Regions from separate parts of the Homo sapiens genome. Here region 1 is linked to region 2. Evidence: fine-mapped expression QTL. A gene starts in region 2. The other region holds a variant in brackets. All regions are shown on one strand. Distances are from middle to middle.

Region 1 (8,341 bases), 26 kb before region 2:
AAATAACTTCATATAAATGATCCAATGTAAGAGATTATAGTTTGTGTAAAGTTCAACATCTTTGGCTCAATTTGAAATAAAACGAACATGTTAAAAAAATAATTTAGTACATATATAACCACTTGAATGAATGATTTTTAAAAAGTTAAATACAATGGTGAGAACTTCCAACACCACTCCTTACTCCCCATTTGTTTCCAAAGTTCCAGAAACCAAATTTCCAACGAGACAAAAACATCTCTTACTAGATGCTTGAAGACACCTTATATTCAATACTTTTATGGTTTCCCCCAACTTACACTTTCTAAACACATTTCTGCCTTGTTTCATGATGTCACTTAACTAACTCAGAAAGAAATTATATTTTCTTTGACCTCACTCTCTCCCTCAACCTCTTCAAGCCAATCAGTCACCATATTTCACCATTTCTGTTTTTGAAACATCTCCTGATCCCACCACCTTCCTTCCTTCCTATAACCACCACTCTAGTTCTTATTGCCATCTTCTTACCTCCACATGATACTTCTAAAGGTAACAGCTCTAACAGGTTGCCTTACCCTCTGGTTTGTCCCTTATTTATTCAGTCTCCCACGTATCTACCAAAGTTCTTTTGTAAAACACAAAAGTACAAAGCTTTTTAAGTTTCCAATTGTTTATAACAGAGGTTCTCAAACTTTAAAGGGCATGAGATTCATTTGAAAGGCTTGCTAAGATACAGATTGCTGGGGACTCCCCCCTCCCTTTTCTTATTAAGTGAAACTGGGAAGGGGCCCAGATATCTGCATTTCTTACTAGTTCACAGGTGGTGTTAATGCTGCTGGGCTAGCATCACTACTTTTTAGTGTCCCAATCAGTGCTGTGCATTAAAACTACTTGGGATACCTATGTAACAAACCTGCATGTTCTGCACATGAATCCCAGAACTTAAAGTATAAAAAAACAAAGAACAACAACAAAAAAGTCTATTTGGGGAAGTTTTATAAAATGACTTGCTGAATCCTAAACCAATTATATGCGGGCATTGCTTTTTTGTTGTTTTTAATCCTCCAGGTGATTCTGATTTCCTAAAGTATGGAGAATCACTGGTGTTTAGTAAAAAGTTCCAAATCCTTAACATGGCATTTAAGACCACTCACCTGGTGTTTATGCACTTGCTTTGCCTAAAAATTCCTAGTAAACGAATAACAACAATAATAAAGTTTGCCTATCTAAAAGCATGTATTCCCAAATGATTTTGTGTGAATTAAATGAGATAATATATAGTAAATGCCCGCCAGTGACTGACACAAAGTCATGTTTCACATAAATGTTAACATCAATTCAATTCAACAAATACGTTGAGTATATTTTTAATTCAATTCTACATATATGTATGACTCACCCTTAATATGGAAGAGGCTACATTCTCTGCTGGGAATATCTGGTTAGATAAGACAGAGATGGTACCTGTCCTCAGAAAGTGAACAGCACAAAAGTAATCAGAGTTTAAGGTAATGAATACCAAACGTTAGTGACTTTTGTAATAAGTACTGTACAAGGAGGAGGACAGGGTCATATGAGAGCTTACAACAGTGATACCTAAATTTTTCCAAGCTTACGGTGCCAAGGAAACCTGAAATCTAAGGTGTGTGGGTGCAAGGGGGGAAACTGAAAAGCGCATTCTAGCCCACCAAAACAGCTTGACCCAATAGCACATAGGCAGGAGCAGCTTAGGTGTGCTAGGGACAGAAAGGCTGGTATGATTGGAGCTTAGAGGTTACACAGGGAGAAGAGGAGCACCAGGTAAGAACAGAGAGAAAGATGGGGGTAGATCAGCCGGGCGCGGTGGCTCACGCCTGTAATCCCAGCACTTTGGGAGTCTGAGGCGGGCGGATCACAAGGTCAGGAGATCGAGAACATACTGGCTAACACGGTGAAACCCCATCTCTACTAAAAATGCAAAATATTAGCTGGGCGTGGTGGCGGGCGCCTTTAGTCCCAGCTACTTGGGAGGCTGAGGCAGAATGGCGTGAACCCTGGAGGCGGAGCTTGCAGTGAGCCGAGATTGCGCCACTGCACTCCAGCCTGGGTGACAGAGCGAGACTCCACCTCAAAAAAAAAAAGATGGGGGTAGATCATGAAGAATTTTGAACTTGATCCAAGAGGAGAGGGAAACCATTCAAGTGTTCTACAATTAGGTCTTCCTGAGGCTGTCACCCTCCAGCTGGTATGCTCCCTGACGGCAGGCGCTGGGTTCTATTCATCTTCCCCTTTTCCATTCTAGTTAAGTGGCCCTCATACTGCTGCATGCACATCCCAAGGGATACTCAAAGACATTCCAGTATGCAAACTGGCACAGAGGTAGTTTAAAGAGAATTAATTTCTAGATCTTTGGTCTTCATATATATTCGTTCCTAAAATTGTACTGAGACTGAATTTGGAATCTGCAAATTATTTTCTCCCACCCAGGCCTTCAGGCTTAGTTTTACTATGAACCTTGTCTTACGGTGGGAAAACTTCAGTGGGGACCAAATAAAGGGATGATTCCAAATACTGGTGTTGGTATTGAAAAAATCAATGATTCTAGGCAACACCTTCTATTGCAACTCAGATGAGTTTTAACCTTTGCTTTCACTGAAATTGAAGACAGATCTAAGCAATGGTCATTTAAACTAATTTATGGTGATAGAAAACTGAATCATATTTGTCCCAGGATATTCTGGACATAATCAAAATTATTTATTGTTTATTTGAAATTCAAATTTAACTGGGCATCTCTATTTTTTTTTTTTTTTTGCTAAATCTGGTAATACACCCACATTTTCATTTTGAACTGGGCCCCACAAACTGTGTAGCTGATCCTGGTCATGACAACAAATATAAACATTCATTTCATGAGAGAAATAACTGGGTAATTATATATGCCACCAGCTAAGATCATACTCAATGAAAATACCTCTTATTTGAGTTTTTTTTCTTTCCTGCCCTTGCAACCCCACACAGAAATACACCCTGACATACAATTTTCCTGCCAAGTTTCCATCTTCAAAGTGTAAAAGTGGTACTGCCAACTGGGAAATAAAAACTTGAAAATGAA[A/G]GGCCATTAGCATCTCAGATACACCAAAAATATGGGGAGTATAATAGAAGGAAAGAAAACTTTGAAAAGGCAGATTTTTCACAAAAGCAAAATTTCTCAAAAAAAAAAACTGATTGACAAAAAAGCCAACATGTTGCCTGTACCAGTTTCACCAGTAATAAATAAAATTACACACACACACACACACACACACACACACACACAGAGAGAGAGAGAGAGAGAGAGAAATGGAGAAAGGAAGGGAGCAAGTGCTCTGGGTACTTAACTGATTCTGACTTTTCCACTACCTGGAACTTAAGAACCAAATATTGACTTTGGGAATATCTCTAAATCCTATGACGTGATTTTCACTTTCAAATATTATGTTTGAAAGATTTGCATGTACTTCTCACTTCTCAATAAACATAGATGTTTTCCTTTCAAGTATCTTTCTAAAACAAGAGCCAAGTTTTTTCCTTCTCCTCTATAGCTGTCAATCATATTTATTATTTGTATCTATTTCAAACTCATTTTGCAATAAAGGATTTCAAAATCTTCTCTCCTTCCTCTGGGGGGAAAACAAAGGGTGAAACAAACAAGGAAGATGACTTTGTATAATCCTTTCAATTTAGATCTGGATTCGTTCCGGCTATGAACTTCATACCAGAGTTCTGCTTTAAGTGCTTCAGATATGGACAAGATGAAAGAAGCTCTTATATCCTATAAAGAGCAAATTCACCTTTGGTGTAAATGTTGGAGAAGTGTGAGGTATGATTTACTCTTTGAAGAAAACATAATGTGTTCTAAAGTGTTCAGGTTTGAAATTCTCCAAATGTTGAGCTCCTAGGAATATCCATTTCATGAGCAAGGATACAAAACCAATCCATCCTTATTCAGTTCAAAGTTTAAGGCTGGAGTAAGTAGTGGACAAGAACACGGATGTGGACTGCAGACTGGCTGTTTTCAGATCGCAGACCAGCCACTTACCCTTACGACCTTGGGCAAGCTTTTTTAAGTTCCTGATGCCTCATTTACATAAGGGAGATGATTATAACAGTATCTGTTTTCATAGGGTTGTTATAAGCATTAAAAACGTGTAGTTCTTAGAAGAGCACGGCTAATCCACAAGAAGCACCATGTAAATTGTTGTTATTACATTAGTATTAAAAATATTTCTGGGCTTAATCTATGAATGCAAGTCCCTGTATATAATAACTGACCTTCTCACTTATTTTTCCTGGCATGCATTCTAAAGATCAAGGTTTTAAAGAAAAATGTTATTTTGTCTTTTATTTCCTATCAAGACTTAGAGCTTGCAGAAAGCTAAAAATATTTTATAAATATAGCCTGGCTGAGCAGCACTGCAATGTGGTAAAAGGAACAGCACAGGGGACACCAAAGCCATGCATTAAAGTCCTGATTCACAACTAAACTGTGAACTGCACTTTAGCATTTAGGTTTTTACTCACTTGTAAAATGAGAAGGTACCCACTGAATTTCTATTACTTCTTACAAAACTAAAATTCTGATTTTGTAACCTTTAACATGAATGTCAAACTTGTCAGAAAGGAATTCAATGAACTCTTACTTGCCAAAGGACCTTCTTGGAATAGTCTTTCTTGAAATTCTAGTTCTCCTATGCTCTCATACTACAAAATTTATCACCCTATACTGTACATAATTTCAACCCTTCTAAAGCCAGGCAATAATATAATCCCAGTGTTAAATGACCCAAAAAAATGAGTAATTATTAAAAGCTTTTCTTACTGGCTTCACCTGGCCCAAAAATGTTAGCAATATCTACAAGTATTGTATGCAATGTTTGCATATTAATCAATACTGTATCATTCTCATGACAGATTTTTGGAGCTGATAGAGATCTCAGAGTAGTGCTTTTAAACCTGGGGCAACTTTACCCTCCAGGAGACATTTGGCAACATCTGGAGTCATTTTTGGTTATCACAACTTGAGGAGTACACTGACATCCAGGGGGTAGAAGCCAGAGATGCTGCTAAACAGCCTCCAATGCACAGGACAGCCCCCACAACAAAGAATTACCTGACCCAAAATATGAAAGGAGAAAGAAAGAAAGAGAGAGAGAGAGAGAAAGACAGAGAAAGAAAGAAAGAAAGAAAGAAAGAAAGAAAGAAAGAAAGAAAGAAAGAAAGAAAGAAAGAAAGAAAGAAAGAAAGAAAGAGAAAGAAAGAAAAAGGTGCTGAGGTTAAGAAACCTGCCTTAGAGCAATGATTTTTCATGGGATGCAGTACTGCCCCCTAGTGTGAGATTCAGAAATCTGGTTGTCAGGGCTGGTGTGGGGAGAGCTGCCAGCAAGAGTAGGCAGGAGTTCAGTCGGGAGGTACACCATGCAATGTGCACGACCTTTTTTTAATGAAGTACGGCACCACATCCTACTTAACTCTCAAATGTCCTACAAATCACATAGGTAATAAATGTCTTTATGATGAGCTAAGCTTACGACCCAAATCCATTTTACATAAAAACACAAGTATTTTTTACATGGTTTAAAACCCCTTATGTTTAGAAATGAAGTTACTACATGAATCAAGAAAGACAATATTTAGTTTTATTTGAAATTTTGCCAAGAATTGCTCATCATTTTGGAAAAATCACATCACCAACAACAATGCCAATGGTGGTACAGTAGTCTTCCCTGATCCTCGGGGCATATCTTCCAACACTCCCAGTAAATGCTTAAAACTGTGGATAGTGCTGAATCCTATATATGCTATGTTCTTTTAAAATTTGATAACCCAGATGGCTAACAGGTGAGGTGGGTAGCATATGTAATGTGGATACAGTGGACAAAGAAATAATTCACATCCTGGGTTGGATGGAGCAGGGGGCACACGTTTTCATCATGCTATTCAGAATGGTGTACAATTAAAAACTTATAAATTATTTGTTTCTGGAACTCTCCAAATTTTTGGACCATAGTTGACCAAGGGTAACTATATTAGGATTCCCTGGAGGGTCAGAACTATTAGGAGATATATACATATATATATGTGTGTATATATATATATATATATATATATATATATATGTATATGGGAGTTTATTAAGTATTAACTTACATGATCACAAGGTCCCACAATAGGCCGTCTGCAGGCGAGGAGCATTGAGAGCCAGTCCAAGTCTCAAAACTGAAGAACTTGGAGTCTGATGTTTGAGGGCAGGAAACATCCAGCATCCAGCATGGGAGAAAAATGTAGGCTGGGAGGTTAGGCCAGTCTCACCTCTTCACATTTTTCTGCCTGCTTTATATTCACTGGCCGCTGATTAGATTGTGCCCACCAGATTAAGGGTGGGTCTGCCTTCCCCAGCCCACTGACTCAAATGTTAATCTCCTTTGGCAACACCCTCACAGGAACAATACTTTGCATCCTTCAGTTCAATCAGGTTGACACACGTATTAACCATCACAGTAAATGAAACCACAGATAAGGGGGGGAATACTTTATCTGAGTGGTCAATATAACAAAGACATCAATCTGCATTTGTAGCTGTCACACATACTGTTATTCTACATATAGGATCAAGCTTTTGAACACTTCATTAGGTCTTATGGTGTAATCATAACTAAACATTTACATATTGAATGAAATACACATTATCTTATTATAAATTACTTATTCCTGTATTGCTCTTTTATATTAAAGTTAGGAATTATATATATACATATATATATATACACATATATATACACACACATATATATGCATATTTTTGAATTACACACTTAGGCAGGTTATATTACACATAAATTTCATTTCTTGGTAATAAAGAGGGCACTGCAAAACATATGCTATGAAAAAGGAGACACTGGATCCAATAGGGTTGAGAATCTTTGTATTATAAAGTACCTCACTCAATTCCTTCACTTTGCAGAAGACAAGTTAGAGGCACAGAGAGAAGCCCATCAGGTTTTCTGACGGCAAATCCAAGGAGTTTTCCACAACAGATAATTCTATTCTATTCTGATCTTATATTCATACTATTAGTAGATCTCTGAGAATTAAGGACTGCCTGATTCAAATGCACACAAAGTATTCCCTCCAAAAACACAAACGGGTAAACCTGACCTGTATAGCATCTACATATAAAATATTACCATGGGAACCACGACAACTACAAACTGAGAAAACTGTCATCACCAACCCACCAGAAAACTAAGCTTCGTTCATTTGGTTGCTTGTCTATGCAATCTTCCATGTAAAAATGAAGTGAATGAAAATAAAAATGACTCATTTCAGAGGTTTCTAATTTGGTAAGATTTAATCACCACAGCTCTCAAGTTTCCTCTGGAACAAAATGCCACAGACCAGGCTTTGGAAGGAAAACAATAATAATAATCTACTTGAGCAGTCCCATGATTCATTTTATCCATCATATGGGGTCTAGTTTTTATTTCATTCTAAATGCCAGGGAGACCAAATGCCAGTTTTGATTATTCTGAATCCTTAATATGATTTTTGGTAATGTTACAGTCTCCTTCCTGAAACCTTAATTTTTCCTCTTGTTTACTTGTCAGGTAAACATTAATTGAATGCTCCTTGTCTAAAATACTATATAGAATGCTCTGGGCAATTTTAAAGTAAAGACAAACTGTTTGCCTTTGACAATGTTACCATCTTATGGGGAAGATAGAACGAATATAAACATATAAATACAAGTATAGGGCAAAATCAAGGACCATGCAGAAGTGCAAATGCAAGTATTACAGGGGAACACAAATCAACTCTTCAAAAAAATACATGTGGGGAGGTGAGAGGAGAAAGGCAACTCACCCGCCTCCTTTTTAATTCTCTATGGTGCAGGCTTTCTCCTTTAATTTTTTTTCTGTCTAACAGGGGTCCAAGAGGTGCTTACTTGATCTCTAGCAGGCTAACCCCAAGACGGCACAATGCCATTCAGGTGTTTTCCACAATTCCGCCTGCAGAAGGAATGATCGCAGGTCTCTCAAGGGCAAACCGAAATTTGGCAGGTGACCTTTCATTTACAGCATCACAGAAGAAAAATACATAGAACCACCCCATGTTAATCGCTAATCTAGCAAACCAACTTTCTCTCTTTTTATAATCCGTAAAAACAGAAAACAATAGCTTAAATGACCTCTGCTTTGTAGGGAAAATTAAAAAGGGCTTAAGCCAATATGCTGTCTATTTCTGGGGGGAAATAAAATACCTCTACAGAGGAAAACAGGCCCGGGAATGAATGGTGACATTCCATGTTCCTCACATATTCAAGTATAAATCACTTACCTCT
Region 2 (8,341 bases):
AGTATCAGCATAGTTGTGCCAATGTCCTGAAACTCAGTTCCCCCCATGTGATGTGAAGCAGATACTTGATGATCTGCATTGTCAGAGGGGAACCCTGAGCTTAGGGTACTTGAATCTTTTAAACTGGACAGTAAAACCTACCTGCCCTTTGCTTCAGAGGGAAAGAATACCTCTATCTTCCAAAACTATCTACCATACAAATGTCTTTAAGAGAGTCTGGGATGAAAGCAGTAAATGCCTTTGCTCACAAGACATGCAAAAGTCTGAGTGACTAATGGAGAATTGAATCCCAACATAGGGGTATCATACATATCTCTGAAATCCACTCATCTCCCACCTGCTTGAATACCTTGCTTTTAGCCACACTTAATTTCTTCCTATGACCACGGTAAGCTTCCAAATGGTTATCTTTCTTCCACCACTGCCTCCTCCCACTCATTCTCTATACAGTAGCTAGACTGCATCTTGTAACACAAATCTCATCTTGTTTCAGTCTTCAATGTCACCCACTGTCCTTAGAATTAGGCCACCCCTCCTTAGCAAGTTCCACAAAGCCAGTGCTTCCCTTGCTTGTCCGTTTAAGGTTTATGCCTTTAGCCACATTAAACTCCTCTCAGTTTCTTACATGTAGAGGTCATAAAGTGGTGGCCCTAGGTTGAATTCCAACTACAGATTTGTCTGGTTTGGCCCACAGAATAGTTTTTAAAACATTTGGGTTAGTTCATATTTGGGAGATTTCATATTTATAAAATATGAATTTTAAGCTCCTCTTTAGAAATCAAGGCATCTGGCAACACTTGGCCTGCATCCCAACCTGACAATACTTGGCTGAAATGAGTATCTACTTTTCCCTTTAGACAGCTTGGATTCTCCAGATTGCCACGCCTCTCCCTCCTGCTCTTACCTATGTATTGTTTAACATTTTCTGCCTGACTTCCATTCTAAGGCATCATGCTCCCTTTGGTCTCTTTCAATCTTCCCACCTCTTCAGCTGCTAACTACCACTCATGCTTCAGGTCTTCATGTATTCATGCTGCTAGGAAGTTTTCCTTCACCACCACCAACCCAATTAGGATGAGATGATGCACTGTGTGACATTCACCTACCCAGGACCCTGCTATCCTATCTTCTGAGGTTCTCTTCACTACCCTTATCATGGCATGAATCATATGGCATTATAATTTTTTAAAAATTTTCTTTATAAATTTATAATTCTCTGTTTACAGATCTGCATCCCTCTCTAGACCTTTCAGTCATAAGAAAGTGACTATAACTGTCTTGTATACCATTGTATGTCAGTGCCTAGGAAAAAGCCAAACGTTTAGTGTGGGCTGAATAAACACTTGTTGCATAAATGAATGAAAAAAGTTAGCTGAGGAATGGCTATTTCAAAATATTGGGGAAGAGTGTATTTATATTTTTATATATGTATTCATTTTTAAAATGTGGACCACTGAAATTCCATTCCTTCCCCCCTCCCCCTACCCTGGAGAAACTAAAATAACTACTTGAGTCATAGAGCAATAGCTGTATACTGGCAATGTGCTAAGAACCACACATGGATTAGCTCATTTAATGCTGACAACAGTCCTTTCAGGTTAGTATTTCATTATTCCCATTTTGGAGAGGTAAACATTCAACCCCAGATAAAATGAAGGCCTTATTCTCCACAACACAGTAAATTGTAGGGATACATGATGACTGAAATTTCTGCCAGGATACCTGAGAGCACATGACACCAACAGCAGCTTTATTCACAGCCCATCTTTTGAGCTATTTGTATGTGGTTTTAATAATTAGCTTTCGCATTCAAATGGTAAAGAAAGTTCTTATACACACAAGAAGCATTTATGGCTATTATACCAGATGACACGGCTTCCAGGGCAGTAAGAAGGATCTTTAATCTCATTTCACAAATAGAAAAACAAAGGTATGGAACAATAAAGCCAAGTGTAAAGTTAACATTATGTCCCTCAGGCTGCCCCTCAGCCTGCCATGCCTTAATGTGAGAGTCCAATCAAAGCCTCAAAGCCCAGTATGTAAAGCCTAATAAATTCTGCACATAGCAGATAGATAAATTCTTCCTAGGAGGAGGAAAAGAATCAGAGATGTCACTGAGTCACACAAAATACAACCTAGACAGAAAGTCAAGATCCCTGGTCAATCTTTTCCAGGTGGAATTCTTGCTCATTCTTTGCCCCAAGAAAAAAAAAAAAAAAAAAAAAAAAAAAAAAAAAAACAAAATTCTAAGTCTTTTTTTTTTTTTTTTTTGAGACAGGGCCTCTCTCTGTGGCCCAAGTTGGAGTGTGGTGGCATGATCACAGCTCACTATAGCCTCAACCTCCCAGTTTCAAGAGATCCTCCCTCCTCAGCCTCTTGAGTAGCTGGGACTACCGGCGTGCACCACCACACCTGGCTTTTTTTTTCTTTTAATATTTTTTGTAGAGAGAAGGTCTCACTATGTTGCTGGTTTCAAACTCCTGAACTCAAGCAATACTCCCGCCTCAGCCTCTCAAAGTGTTGGGATTACAGGCATGAGCCACCACACTCAGTCTCACCAAGTCTCGTAACTTTTAAAGTCAAATTTCCAGAGTCACTTCAGGACCCACCAGGCCTTAAGGTCCAGCTTATTAAAAATCTTACATTAAATCTCTGTATATTTTTTCTAGGCATTATAATTTCCTTCCTCAAGGAGTTGAGAAAAAAACTGTATGTGGGAACCACAACATACAGTTGAAGGAAGTTAGAATTAAAATTTCTATAGCTTTTAACATTTGATTAGCACATCATACATGTGTAGAATGTTTTCCTAAGCTTTCATTCTAAAAACACAGAATTCATTTTATTTCCAAGTGCACCTTGATGAAGTAGGAGCACATGGCATTTTATTTTAGAAAGCAATGTCTTAACAAACTTGTTATTTCTTCCAATTATGCAAACTCACCAAATGATTTTTTATCTATTTATTTATTTAGTTTTATCTTTTTTTGAGAGAGTCTCACTCTGTCACCAGGGCTGGAGTGTGTGGAGTGATCTCAGCTCACTGAAACCTCCACCTCCCAGGTTCAAGCGATTCTCCTGCCTCAGTCTCCCAAGTAGCTGGGATTACAGGTGCCTGCCACTATGCCCAAGTAATTTTTTGTATTTTTAGTAGAGATGGGATTTCACCATGTCGGCCAGGCTGGTACGGAACTTCTGACCTTGTGATTTGCCCGCCTCGGCCTCCCAAAGTGCTGGGATTACAGGCGTGAGCCACCGCAGCCGGCCAAATGATGATCTTAAAGGGCCTTTGATAATGCATTCTTGACCTCATTCTACTTGCCATGTATAGTCATTAGAAGACTGTTCATATAAAAATATGAAATAAAACTACATAGTCTTTAAGTTACCTTGGAAGGCCCTTCAGGACAAGGAACATACTCTATATCTTTATATCTTTAAAGCATATAGCAGAGTGCATCGCGGAATGAAAATGCCTATTAAGTCAGGAATGCAGGAACGACAGGGCTTACCATTTAATATCAATTCTAAAGCTGATTATTTATTTTTGAGACAGGGTCTTGCTCTGTCACCGAGGCTGGAGTGCAGTGGTATAAACACAGTTCACTGCAGCCCTGACTTCCTGTAAAGCTGATTTTTTAGGCCATTTACTTGCTTTATAAAGTAACTAGAATGGCATGAACTATGCTTTTTTGTGCCTGTGATTATAAACTGAAAATTTACAAACAATATGTCACATGTTATTTGAGCTAAATGTCTGATTTTACTAAAATGAAAGTATCCTTCCTGGATTATTAGAATTAGCAGTAAATTTAAGTTTGCACCTAGAAGAGAAAAGCGATTGTAAAGAATGTAAAACATCTGAAGCAAACAAAGTCCAATAAGATCTTCCTTCTACTTGAATTTCTATGACCACAAAGGCACAGGATGTAAGGTCCATAGCTTTGTACACAGGGATTGGTGGGGACGACACGATTTCAACTCTGAACCCCAATGACCAGCTCCAGGAACACATGCCTTTTAGCCCCGCAAAGCTACTGACCAAATCACCCAGAGAGATAATCACATCTCAGCCAAAGGACCTGAACTCAGACGATCAGAACACAGGACCTGCCATCAGGCAGCTGCACGAGACAAGAGACCGTGCTCAAAATCACGTAATACCCTAAGTCATCCCAAGGGAGCCCCACAACTACCCTCAGCGGCAGGCAGAGCTGACGCATATTTTGCAGATGACAACATACAGGTTCCGATGGGGCGGGTCCCAAGGCCACAGAGCTGGGAAGGTGACTGAACCTAGACTTAACTAGTATCCCAAGTGGTGGATACTTCCCATTCTGCCTTGGAGATCGCCCTTCGCCCGCGTATTACATTCGGAGGCTGGCAAAACGGCAGGAAGAGAGCAAAGCTGGGCAAGGACGGGAAAGAAAGAGGGGAAGGAATTTCCACTGCTTCCCGGCACTCGCCCCCACTCCACACCCCAGGTTGCTACTCCGCGGCGGCCTCTACTTCCCCAAACTAGACTGAAGGGCGGGCGGAGAACCGAGGAGGCTTTCTAGGCGTCACGGAGAGTTCTCCAAGTTGGGGGCAGAAAAGGCGAATGAACAAATTGTACCCCCTAGGGAGAGGGCACAAGGAGAAGTGCGGAGGTGAGAAGGACCGGAGGGGAGGACGACCCCTCACAAACTGGCCAGGGACTTAATAATGGTGATGAAGGGTCGTGAGAGAGGTTTGGGAAATGCGAGAATAGCTCAGTCCCCAAAATCCTCCCTGGCCGCATCGCTGGATCCCCGCCCCATCCCCCCACCCCCGACCCGGGCAGCCCGGGAGAAAAAGCAACAACCTCCTGGGGCACCAGGAATTGGTGGCAGCAGGATCCCGAGCCCAGGCCCCCTTCCGCGCCCCCACCCTCACCCTTGCCCTGACCGCCTCGCAGTGGCGGCAGCAGCGGCAACAACACCAACCTGCGCGACCACGGGCTCTGTCCGGGACGGAAGCCGGAGCCTGCGGGCGGCGGAGCGGCGGGCGGAGTTAGTTGGAGGCTCCGGCTCCCTGGGCGGGGACAGGCTGAGCACGCGGAGGCAGCGGCGGTGGCGGGGGCTCCCTCTCCTCGGCGTGCGCCGGGCCCAGCCGGGTCCGCCGCTCGCCCTCGACTCCTGGGGCAGGTCTCAGTCCCTCCCCGGGGGCGGCTCCCGGGCCAGCCCCGCGCTCGCCTCCTCCACGCCGGCGGCCTCTGCTCCGCCCTGCCTCTTTGGGCGCAGGGGGCGCGGAGCTTGGGAAGTGGAGCCCTGGCGAGTCCCCAGCGATTGCGCGCAGCTTCCCGGGGTTTCCCTGCGGGGGTCGCGTGTGCTGGGTGTCTGAACTCACGCGCGGGCCAGAGGTAGCCAAGAGCTGGAACTCTTGCCCAAGTGCCCCGGGGAAGGGAGTGAAGGCCCGGCCTGAAAGTCTCTGACCCTCCCGAGTCTCGTGTCCCTAGAAGCAGCCTTGCGAGGTGGCCACGCCAGCTGCCCTGAGAGAAGCAGAGGAAAATGTCCGACTCTCCCTCCGCCCAGCTTCGCGCCAGAAGAACGTTTCCCGAGAGAAGGAAGGACCCATTGACCCCCAGCCCTTGCTCCAGCCTGGAGACCTGGCTGAGTGCATGGAACTGGAAGGATGGCAGAGTACCGGGGCTGAAAGCCTGGGAAATGTGCTATTTCTATTCACACCACCCCCTTGCCCGGCCCCTGGATTCAGGCCACCTCGCTCAGGTCTGCGCAGTGCTTCCCAGTTCACACCTCCGACCCGAGGAGGGAGGTCGGTATCCCTTTCTTAGCCTGGCTTCCCGCCTCCATCTGCATCCCTTTCTGCTAAACCTTTTTAACCCGCAGAGTGCCCAGCGCGCACACACCGATCACTTCGCCCCTAAACTGCGGGCAGGGAACTCTGGAGCCACCCACATCCCCAGCCTCACCCCAAAGCAAGAGAAAGCAGGGAGCCGCGCGTGGGGTGGTGGGGGCGGGGCTGGAGAGTTCCAGTAGGAAGGTTTTATACCCAAGAGGCTTGATGATGTGCAGTACTGACCCCACACACAAATTGATATGCGTTTAATTGAAGGCAGGTATTTGCCACTGTCTCTCCCTGTCTGCAGGTAACCGCTTGAGTGCGTTCACCTCGCCTCTTCCATCCCCAGCGCCAGCCCAGCCCCCTCTCTTTCTCCCAGAGTCCCATCCTCCTCTCCCTCACCTCTCCCATCCCAGCTCCCTGCAGCGCGGGTCCCGAGCTGCTCCAGATCCCCAGCACCCAGCTCTGGTCTTTCCAGACAACTCCTCCCCTTCAGAATCTGGTGTGGTAGCAGGGAGGTTGTGAGAAGGGACACTGAGGAAGATAAAGAAGGAGAAGCCAGTGGACTGGGAAGAAGGTAGGAAAGTGCGAACCGAAGGGGTACACCGGAGAGGAGCTATGGGAAATGAGGCAAAGCCTTCAGGCTATAGGGGGATTCCCAGAAAGAAAATCATTTTCTCCATAGGGAAACTACCGATGCTCGCTGTAGACCAGTTGGAAAATCTGTTGTACACCCTCCCAACAGAATTCCTAGTGAGCAGTGGCCAGACTGGTCAGGGCCTAGAGCATGTGTCCAGGAACTCCATCCACTTCCCAACCCAAATTCCAAGGCAGGCGGATGACCCTCATTTTGGAAACTTGATTCTGAGAAGGTGCGAGAAGACACCGAGCTGAGTCTGTTTACGGATCCCGGGCTGTTCTTCATCTTTAGGCATCTCCTAAGTCACTTTATCTCTTCCTCCTGGTCTGGGTTGTTAAGGAAAGCAAGCACTTGAGACCCTCCCTCAAATACGTCTCTCCTCTGTGTGTGTGTGTGTGTGTGTGTCACAGAGAGAAAGTTTGTGGTGTGAGAGAGAGAAGAAAATGTGGAGGGGCAGGAGTTCTAGGCTATGGTGTTTTGTTTCTCTTTGTTTTCTTTCTTCAATTCAGTACATTTTTGTGCCAAGATGATTTTCTTGTTCAGTGGTGACTATATTTTTGCCTTAAATGTGGGAGAGTAGTTGGGACAACACTTCTAAATGTAACCTGACGGTAACCTCTCACACCCTCAAGGTCCTGGTGTGTCTGGAATTGGTGAGTTCTTGGTCTCACTGACTTCAAGAATGAAGCCGCGGACCCTCTCTGTGAGTGTTACAGTTCTTAAAGGCAGCATGTCTGGAGTTTGTTCCTTCTGATGTTTGGATGTGTTTGGAGTTTCTTCCTTCTGGTGGGTTCGTGGTCTCACTGGCTCAGGAGTGAAGCTGCAGACCTTCGTGGTGAGTGTTACAGCTCATAAAGGCAGTGTGGACCCAAAAAGTGAGCAGCAGCAAGATTTATTGCAAAGAGCAAAAGAGCAAAGCTTCTCCAGTGTAGAAAGGGACCCCAGCGAGTTGCTACTGGGGCAGCCTGCTTTTAGTCCCTTATCTGGCCCCACGCACATCCTGCTGATTGGTCCATTTTACAGAGAGCTGATTGGTCTGTTTTACAGAGAGCTGATTGGTCCGTTTTGACAGGGTGCTGATTGGTGCGTTTACAATCCCTGAGTTAGACACAAAAGTTCTCCAAGTCCCACTAGATTAGCTAGATACAGAGTGCTGATTAGTGTATTCACAATCTCTTAGCTAGACATAAAGGTTCTCCAAGTCCCCACCAGATCAGCTAGATACAGAGTACTGATTGGTGGATTTACAAACCTTGAGCTAGACACAGGGTGCTGATTGATGCATTTACAAACCTTGAGCTAGACACAGAGTGCTGATTGGTGTATTCACAATCCCTTAGCTAGACATAAAGATTCTCCAGGTCCCCACCAGATTAGCTAGATACAGAGTGCTGATTGGTGCATCCACAAACCCTGAGCTAGACACAGAGTGCTGATGGAGCAGGGGGCAGCGCTAGTCTAGGAGGCTTGGGGAGGTTCGGTAGCGCAGGAGCCCACAGCCTTGGGGGAGGCTCAGGCATGGCGGGCTGCAGGTCCCGAGCCCTGCCCCGCAGGGAGGTAGCTAAGGCCCAGCGAGAAATCGAGTGCAGTGCCAGTGGGCCAGCACTGCTGGGGGACCAGGCGCACCCTCCGCAGCTGCTGGCCCGGGTGCTAAGCCCCTCACTGCCCTGGCGGGCGAGGCCGGCCGGCCACTCCGAGTGTGGGCCCGCCAAGCCCACGCCCACCCGGAACTCTAGCTGGCCTGCAAGCGCCCTGCTCAGCCCTGGTTCCCGCCCTCGCCTCTCCCTCCACACCTCCCTGCAAGCTGAGGGAGCCGGCTCCGACCTCCGCCATTGCAGGAAGGGGCTCCCACAGTGCAGCGGCGGGCTGAAGGGCTCCTCA

Evidence for each region.
Region 1: its variant is fine-mapped to the expression of PAM in whole blood (INTERVAL, PIP above 0.99).

Annotation. Positions count from the first base shown.
Region 1 is chr5:102,777,665-102,786,005 of GRCh38, reverse strand. All of the region lies in intron 1 of PAM (peptidylglycine alpha-amidating monooxygenase), which reads right to left. Among named protein-coding and RNA genes, the nearest start is that of PAM, 27 kb to the right of the region's middle. The variant A/G (reference allele first, on the strand shown) is at 3,077.
Region 2 is chr5:102,751,972-102,760,312 of GRCh38, reverse strand. It overlaps PAM (peptidylglycine alpha-amidating monooxygenase), which reads right to left and starts at 5,008. Exons shown (of 26, transcript NM_001177306.2): 1 at 4,965-5,008. RefSeq lists enhancers at 4,285-4,374, 3,946-4,446, 5,454-5,979 and a silencer at 4,765-5,314.